Linked DNA regions of Homo sapiens. The protein of the gene in region 2 interacts with the protein of the main gene of each other region in a pairwise test. Each region holds a gene or a part of one and is shown on either strand. Other genes may lie near its edges.

Region 1 (3,748 bases), on a different chromosome or scaffold from region 2:
AGCCAATACCTTAACATACGAATCTTGGAGTGTAAACATTGTGAAGTTATTAGGAGAAAAGCTCTTTCGGTGAGGATATTCCACAGGAAAAACTCTACAGAATCAAATCTGGCATTTGGTTGTTCTAGAAGTTGTCGTTTCATTATAACGGGGAAAAAATTAAATAATTTTTATTTATTATAAAAAGAAGACTCTCCCCAAAGATTTACAATTGTATATCCCCATCTCCTCTCTGACAGAGATGTCAGTTCTCTGGGTCGAGACATAACCAGCTGCTGGGTTCACACACACAGGAAGCCACAGAGAAGATCGCGTTCAGAGCCTCGAAATAATACGCGTTAGTTAAGAACTGCCTGCTACTAAACCAAAATTATTCAAGCGGAGCCCCATTTGTCACAATCCAGTCATAAGGGTTCCACCACCCCCTCCCCCAACTGCTTGTGTAGTGGTATATCTGCTACGGTAAAGAAGCCATCATCAGGTAAAGATTGGGGTGGGAGAAAAGCGGGGAAAAGGGGGCACCCTTTCATCTAATTTCGTGAGGCGTGAGTAATTGGTACTGTTAAGAGGAACGTTCTATTTATCGGGGGTTGGAGTAGCATGAGGGGAGAATTTCGTTCAAATCAACATGGCCAGCAAGATGTCCCTACAAACAAAAGGCAATGGGGGGATATAAACACGAACCATTCACCTCCATCAGCTACAGCATCGCCATCATGGTGTGTGCAGAGACCCCCAAAGGCTCCTCTCACCCTCCACACCAGCTAAGGCAAAAGAAGGGAGAGAGGTAGCTGCATCCCCCCCTCCCAACACTGCTTCCAAAGACACACTCTTCGAGGGGGTTTCTCCCCTCGGCTGCCCGGAATCAGAGAGAAAGAGTAACGTCCCGCTCACTACCTCTCAGCCGAACCCCAACGCCGGCCCGGGGCTCGCTAAACTTTACCAGAGCTTCTCCCCCAGATCCCCACCCTATCGCCCCGGGATCGCGCTTCCCACAAGCGGGGCACCCCAGGCGCTTCCTGACAAGCGAGCAGCCGGGGAAAGCCGAGTCCGGGGCGGGGGCTACTGGGATCCACGGAGGGGCGGGGCGGCCGAAGCCAAGTTCCCGGGGGTCTGAGAAGAGCGCCTGACAGGAGCCCGGGACTGCAAAGGAGGAAGAGGAAGCGGCCACGGGGAGCTTTCCCAATCCCCCCTACGAGAGCACCCTGCCCCCAGCCCCAGCTCCCCATGGGGGGCAGGGAGGCTAACTGGAAGGTGAAAAAGCCGAGCCCATGAGACAGCTGCAGCCCCTACCTCCGGACTCCCTATCTCTTCCCCCGCCACCCCCGCCAGAGGCGCCCACAACAATAACACGCCGGGGACGACCCGTCAGCGCCCCCGAGGCACCCGGGGCCCGCGGCCCGCCGCAGGCGGGCCCCCTCTGCTGAGACCGGGCGCGCCTCTCTCCCTACAACTCCAGGCCCGGGTGGAGTCAGGCCCGAGAGGCCCCCCAGGGTCGGACCCATCCCCCCTGGCAGCAGCGGCGCCGTCTCCGCGGCCGAATATTAGAAGTGAATTCGAGCTGCGCTTTACCTTTAGTTCCGCACTGTCCGCCATCTTGCGTCTGTCAGCGCAAGCGCAGTGAACTTCGCCGGGGGCCGCCGCTAGACCCGCCCCTCTAGCCGGCCTGGCCCCGCCCCGGCCCGCCCCTCCACCTTCCCAGCCCGCCTCTAGCCTCCGCCCCGCTCAGGGCGCTCGAAGCCCCGCCCCGGGCACGTACAGCTGCGAGACAGGCACGTTCCATTTAAATAATGGCGCCAAGCGGCGAGGTTTGACAGTTACTGCCCCCTCGGTCTCCCTGCCCCCCATCCTAGCTCGGCCAGCTCCTCCCGGGAAGGGCCGGAGCGAGAGGGATGCTGGCCTGAGCCCCATCTCTCTGCGGTCCGCGGAACGCTTCTGCATAGCTTCGACGCCTACGGTCACAGAAACAATGCTGTCCCCCAACCCCCAATAAGCAAGGCTTTTTCAGCACCTGCTACCTGCGAGGCTACCAGTGGGCTAAAAATAGAAATCCATTACATTTAAGGGGCCCTTAATGAAGCATTTCTATCATTATTGGCTCAGATCCTCTTGATAACGAGGGGAGGTAGGCAAGGAAGAGATAATTCCCATGGTATAGATTCAGAAATGAAAGCTCAGAGAGGAAAAGTGACTTGCACAAACAAGTATTTTAACGAGGTGGCGTAAGACAAAATTTTGAAGGTGTTCATTAACATTTTTGTTTAAAAAAGTATTTATTTAGTGACCATCTGCTTGCCTTGTGCTAACGGCTAAATATACATTTTGAAATCAAAGTCCGTGCCCTTCTGTAGTTCTCTAATGGGGAATCAGAGAAGTGAACGAACAAAGATACAATTGCAAATGTTAGTGAGTACCAGAAAGGAGCAAAAGGTCATTGAGAGAGAGAAAGGGTTTGGGAGATGTACTTAATTCTGGGAGGGTTTTATCCACTAAATTGACATTTAAGTAGACTTGATGGAAGGATTATTTCATTCCTTTTCGTCTCTACTGAAAGCCTTCTATATACCTCCTCCCCAACCCCCACTTTTACTAATCAACTTTGCCTCATAACTCATGGAAAAAATGAAAGATATCAGAAATAAACTCCCTTATCTTCTCACCATCAAAACCACCCTTATCTGCATAGTAACATTTGGGTTGCTATGAATGAAGTGTCCCTGCGCCTAGGAAGGCCAGTCCCTTTACCAGTGACCGGATTTTTTTCACGCACATTCCTAAGGATTTTACTCTTACAATTACCTACCCTCCAGCATCGTTAGTTTTTTCCCTCTCAATTGAATTGCTCCTATCAGCATATAAATATATTGAAATTTCTCCCATCTAAAATAAACTTCCTTTGACTCCAAAATCGCCTCTAGGAACTGCCCTATTTTTCTGCTATCTTCATAAATTCTTAGAAAGGTTTTTCAAGATCTCTCCAATAGTGCTTGTTCCTACCTCTCACTTCACATTCACTTCTCAGTCTACCCTGATCGAGCTTTGGCTTCCATCATCTGTATCACTTATCAAGATTACTAATGATCTTGTTTCCAAAGGCAATTGCCAATTCTCTATCCATATCTCAATTGACCTCTCTGTAGAATCGCGAATAATTGACATGGTTCCTTTGATTTGAAACACTTTTCCCCCTGAACTTACCTACACGTCACAGATAGTCCTGTTCCCTCACTGGGCCTCCTTTTTGATATGCTGGTTTCTCCTCTTTGGCTCAATCTTTAAATGTTGGACTGCTCCAGGGCTCGGTCCTTGCATTCTTCTCTATTTTATCACCAGGTGATCTCATCTAACTGGTTGACTTGAAGTCTATATGCTCATGACTTTGAAAATGCTCTCTAGCCTAAACCTCTCCATTGTCAAGAAACAAAAGTAAAACAAATTGAGATTCAAGATCTCATTGGCATTATTGCACTCCTAGAATTGGACAAAACTTCATTCCACAAAATAGAATAAATGTTGCAATGAATCAAGCAGAGGATGTTAACTTTAGAGACAGAAAATAGACTGAAGAAGGCAGAAACAACAAAAAGCAGATTGGTTATATCAAAGTCACTTTTCTTTAAGGTGGAGACGTGGAGACAGAACAGTAGAAAGAAAACTGATTGGTTAACATTGGGTTACTTCAGGTATTCTATTTTAAGGATTAAAACAGGAAATTTCATTATCATGCCTGTTAAAGATTGAAACTTCT
Region 2 (3,748 bases):
AACAAGAGCGAAACTCCATCTCAAAAAGAGAAAGAAAGAAAGAAGTGGTAAAAAGCAAATATGTGGAGTCATATTATATCCACAGTGGTAGCTATTATGATGTAAACGAAGGCAAAAATAATTAATAAGGACCTAACCTAGCATGTTATGACTGCTTACGTTGTATGCAATATATTACAAATCAGCAAAATATAAGCTCTGAAAATTCAGATGGTGTCTTTAGTTCTCATCTCTGGTATCCCATCTACAACAATCCACCATGGAAGTTAAGTACGTCTGCTACTTCGGATCACAGGGAGGTCTGATGTCTTTATTTTTATTTATTTATTTATTTTTTTGAGACGGAGTCTTGCTCTGTCTCCCAGGCTGGAGTGCAGTGGCACAATCTTGGCTCACTGCAAGCTCCGCCTCCCGGGTTCACGCCATTCTCCTGCCTCAGCCTCCCAAGTAGCTGGGACTACAGGCACCCGCCACTACGCCCGGCTAATTTTTTGTATTTTTAGTAGAGATGGGGTTTCACTGCATTAGCCAGGATGGTCTCGATCTCCTGACCTCGTGATCCGCCTGCCTCGGCCTCCCAAAGTGTCTGATGTCTTCTGACAAAAGATATTTAATCACGCTTTCATTCAACAAATATTACTTGAAACATTACATTTTTTGAACTAGAACTTTATGCATTACCGTAAGCATAGTTGCTTGAAAACGTAGTGAATTTCCTAAAAAGCTAACAATTTTATATGCAAGCATAGTGGCCAAACACTAACTCAATGCAAAGGAGTATTAAATCTGTTTCTTTAAAGGTATGATTTTAAAACAAAACCCTTTTCTATTTATTGTCTCAGTCTGTATACATTTGAAAAGAAAACTTAATAATCTGGTGCTTAAGAAGGTTTATAAAAGAGCATGTGAATGCCCAGTTTAGATAATTGTGCAATTCACAATGCAGTATAATTAAAAGTGAAAGTGATCTTATTCAACATACGACTGCATGTACGGACATGAATTATCATCTGCATATACATATATGTGTTCTCTTTCACACACCTACCACTTTTCACACAACATACATACATATACAATACAAAGCATAGTCTTACCCAAGATTTTCAAGGTCAAAAATGCGATTCAGGTCACAGTCAATATATCTGGTACACTTCTTCACTGCTCTGGGGTTAGTAATAAATGGTTTTACCTCCAGCCCTGTTCTCTGAATCTCAGCGCCATTCTCTAGCCAATGCTTAACCAGAAATACTCCGGTTAGCTCATTCCCATGGGTTCCTCCAAAGATAGCAACCTTTTGTATATGTTCTTCAGCAATGTGACAAGAAGTCATTTCACCAAGTAGTTTTTATCTGATTTCTGCAATTCAGAAGAGAGATCAAAGGAAATTCGATTTTCTTAAGAAAGGTTTAGAAATGTAAATGAGACTTTACCCAAAGGGCAAAGTACAGAATTCCCTTGAGTGGAGTATATTTTAATTTTCTGTTACAAGTTCTGAGCCCCGTTTATGGACACTCCCTTCTTTAGCCCTGCCCTTTGCCATATTTGGATTAAAATATGCAAAGATCAACTAGAGATACAGCTGTTTACTTTAACTTCTAACTCCCTCAGATGGTCAGTAGATCTAAATACAGTAATAAATTAGCATTTCATACTAATACAAAAATTCCATTCTTTTCCTCAGCTAGGATGTCATCCAGTGAGGCTTTCACAATTATCTGTAATAATAAAAATAGTTTATACGTTTCTAATTTCACAAAATAAAAAAGTGGCCCACTCAGTATTTCCACGGGCATTTCAAAACATTTCTTCTCTGAAATGAGTTCAAGCACTTTTCATGATCTGAGGGCATTTGAATCTCACCTCTATAAACAGCCAAAGGCTGACCCTCAGAGACCTCCTCTTGAACCGGCGCCCATTCTTTCAGAATGCTTTTTCACAATCAGAAACAGAAGGGCCAAATCAATGATCACTTGGGACTCGAAAAGCTACCCTGAAACATCCCTTCATTTCTTTCTCATGAGGTTTTTGGTAATTCTGTGTTAACTTACTTATGAATCTTCCTCATTTTTTGCCTAAATACCAAAGGAAAGACAACTGTTAGTACTTTTCAAGTTTTTGTGATGCCTGAAAATGTCTTGGGACACACTGCATGTGCTAACCACATCATGTGAACTTACATAGACACAGCCTTATTCACTGTCAGCGGGGACTCTCCACTGGACTGTGTTACTCAAAAAGGGGTCTTATTAGGGGAAATTTTCCAGAATACTAAGATGATTACATCCCTTTGGAGAAATGACTCTGAGCCAAATCTGATTTGATTTCATGCTCAGTCACCCAGAAAGTCACATATGTTCAAGTACTGGGAATACCATGTACTAGTAACGCCAGGTTGTTTGATAGAGGGTACAATAAGAGTAATTTATTACAATTGCAGAGTTTAATTTATAATGTCCTTTCACTCAGTTTATTCATACATTAATTTTATACGATAGGGTGGGTTAGGTGTTGACATCCCCACTGCAGGGGTAAACGAAAGAGAGGTTAAGTAACTCAGTTAAGGTTCTGCAGGGATGTAGGAGAACCTAGGCCTGAGACCCATGTTTCTCATCCCAAGTCTAGTGTTTTTCACAGGACAATAGGGTGCCTCTCTGTTATTTTTGGTCTTCTTCACAGTTCTAGTTTTGCTCTTTCAGAATTCACATAAACAGCCATTACAGTGTGCTCAGGAAACAAACATGCATACAAACCAAATACATGGTGGAAAAATAAAATATGAATGCTTCCTAATATTTAATAAACCCACTGAATGTTCTTCCTTTAAGAGCTTATAATGCAGAGATAGAGAAAGCAAAATAACCACATCAAATCTATGCATTAAAATGACTGTTCTAATAGAAAAAAAAAGCTCCTGTAGGCTTTGACTGTCTGTCCACATCCATGTACACTGAACACTTCAGACGGTGTAGAGATGATGAAAACACACGTAAAAGTAAACAGATGACAGTTGTTTAGTTGCTTTGGTTTTAAGAGCAGTAACCATGGTGAATTATTAACACTCTACTATGCTTGGTTTCTTTTCTGCTGATTTGTAGTTTGTTCTGTCCTTTGCCCTAGTCTCTCTGGAAATGCTGCTTCAGTTATTTACTCGTAGCTGGCACAAATGACTTGCATTTTGAAGCTTGTTTTATGGAATTTTAACAGATCAGCACTTTGAAGCACATTTCACATTCATAAATAAAGTTTCTCTTACATGTCAAAATGAATAACTTTTTTGAGAGTTAATGAATTGCAGCAATTATTTCCCATACTTACCTTGTTTTTTGTGTACAGAGTTTGTCTTCTGTGGAAAGCTTTATTAGGAAAAAGGAGAGCATTTCCTCAGAAGTAGAGCAACAGAGGCTTTTCATACTCTTATACCAAGTTAACTTCCGAAAGATTTTTAACTCCCTGTTTCCCAAAGTGTACTTGATTTTTGGGATGACCCAAAAAACCACACTTTTTTATTAGTTCTCAGCGAACTGATAGTATACGAAGTGAAACCCTTTCGAATTGTCACTATCTCATTATTAAGTTGAATATATAATATTCTGAAGTACTTAAAAGAGTAAGCATAACTTCCAGCATTACAAATGTTTTGTGGGATAGAGTTGCCTGATGTATTAATAAAATAATGTAGTTTAAAACAAAAGGATGCCAGGTGTGGTCTCATGCTTGTAATCCCAGCACTTTGGGAGGCCGAGGT

Evidence for each region. Proteins that work in one complex are often made in the same cells at the same time.
Region 1: the proteins of ASPA (region 2) and PIAS1 interact in binary tests that used the Homo sapiens proteins (3 or more experiments, as listed by UniProt).

Annotation. Positions count from the first base shown.
Region 1 is NC_000015.10:68,052,175-68,055,922, reverse strand, and holds the start of PIAS1 (E3 SUMO-protein ligase PIAS1), read right to left. Parts: upstream 1,609-3,748; 5' UTR 1,597-1,608; coding exon 1,573-1,596; exon of another isoform or gene 698-1,572; coding exon of another isoform or gene 692-697; exon of another isoform or gene 688-691; coding exon of another isoform or gene 685-687; exon of another isoform or gene 40-684; coding exon of another isoform or gene 10-39; intron 1-9. UniProt on the Homo sapiens protein: Functions as an E3-type small ubiquitin-like modifier (SUMO) ligase, stabilizing the interaction between UBE2I and the substrate, and as a SUMO-tethering factor. Catalyzes sumoylation of various proteins, such as CEBPB, MRE11, MTA1, PTK2 and PML.
Region 2 is NC_000017.11:3,473,745-3,477,492, reverse strand, and holds the start of ASPA (aspartoacylase), read right to left. Parts: upstream 1,497-3,748; 5' UTR 1,334-1,496; coding exon 1,098-1,333; intron 1-1,097.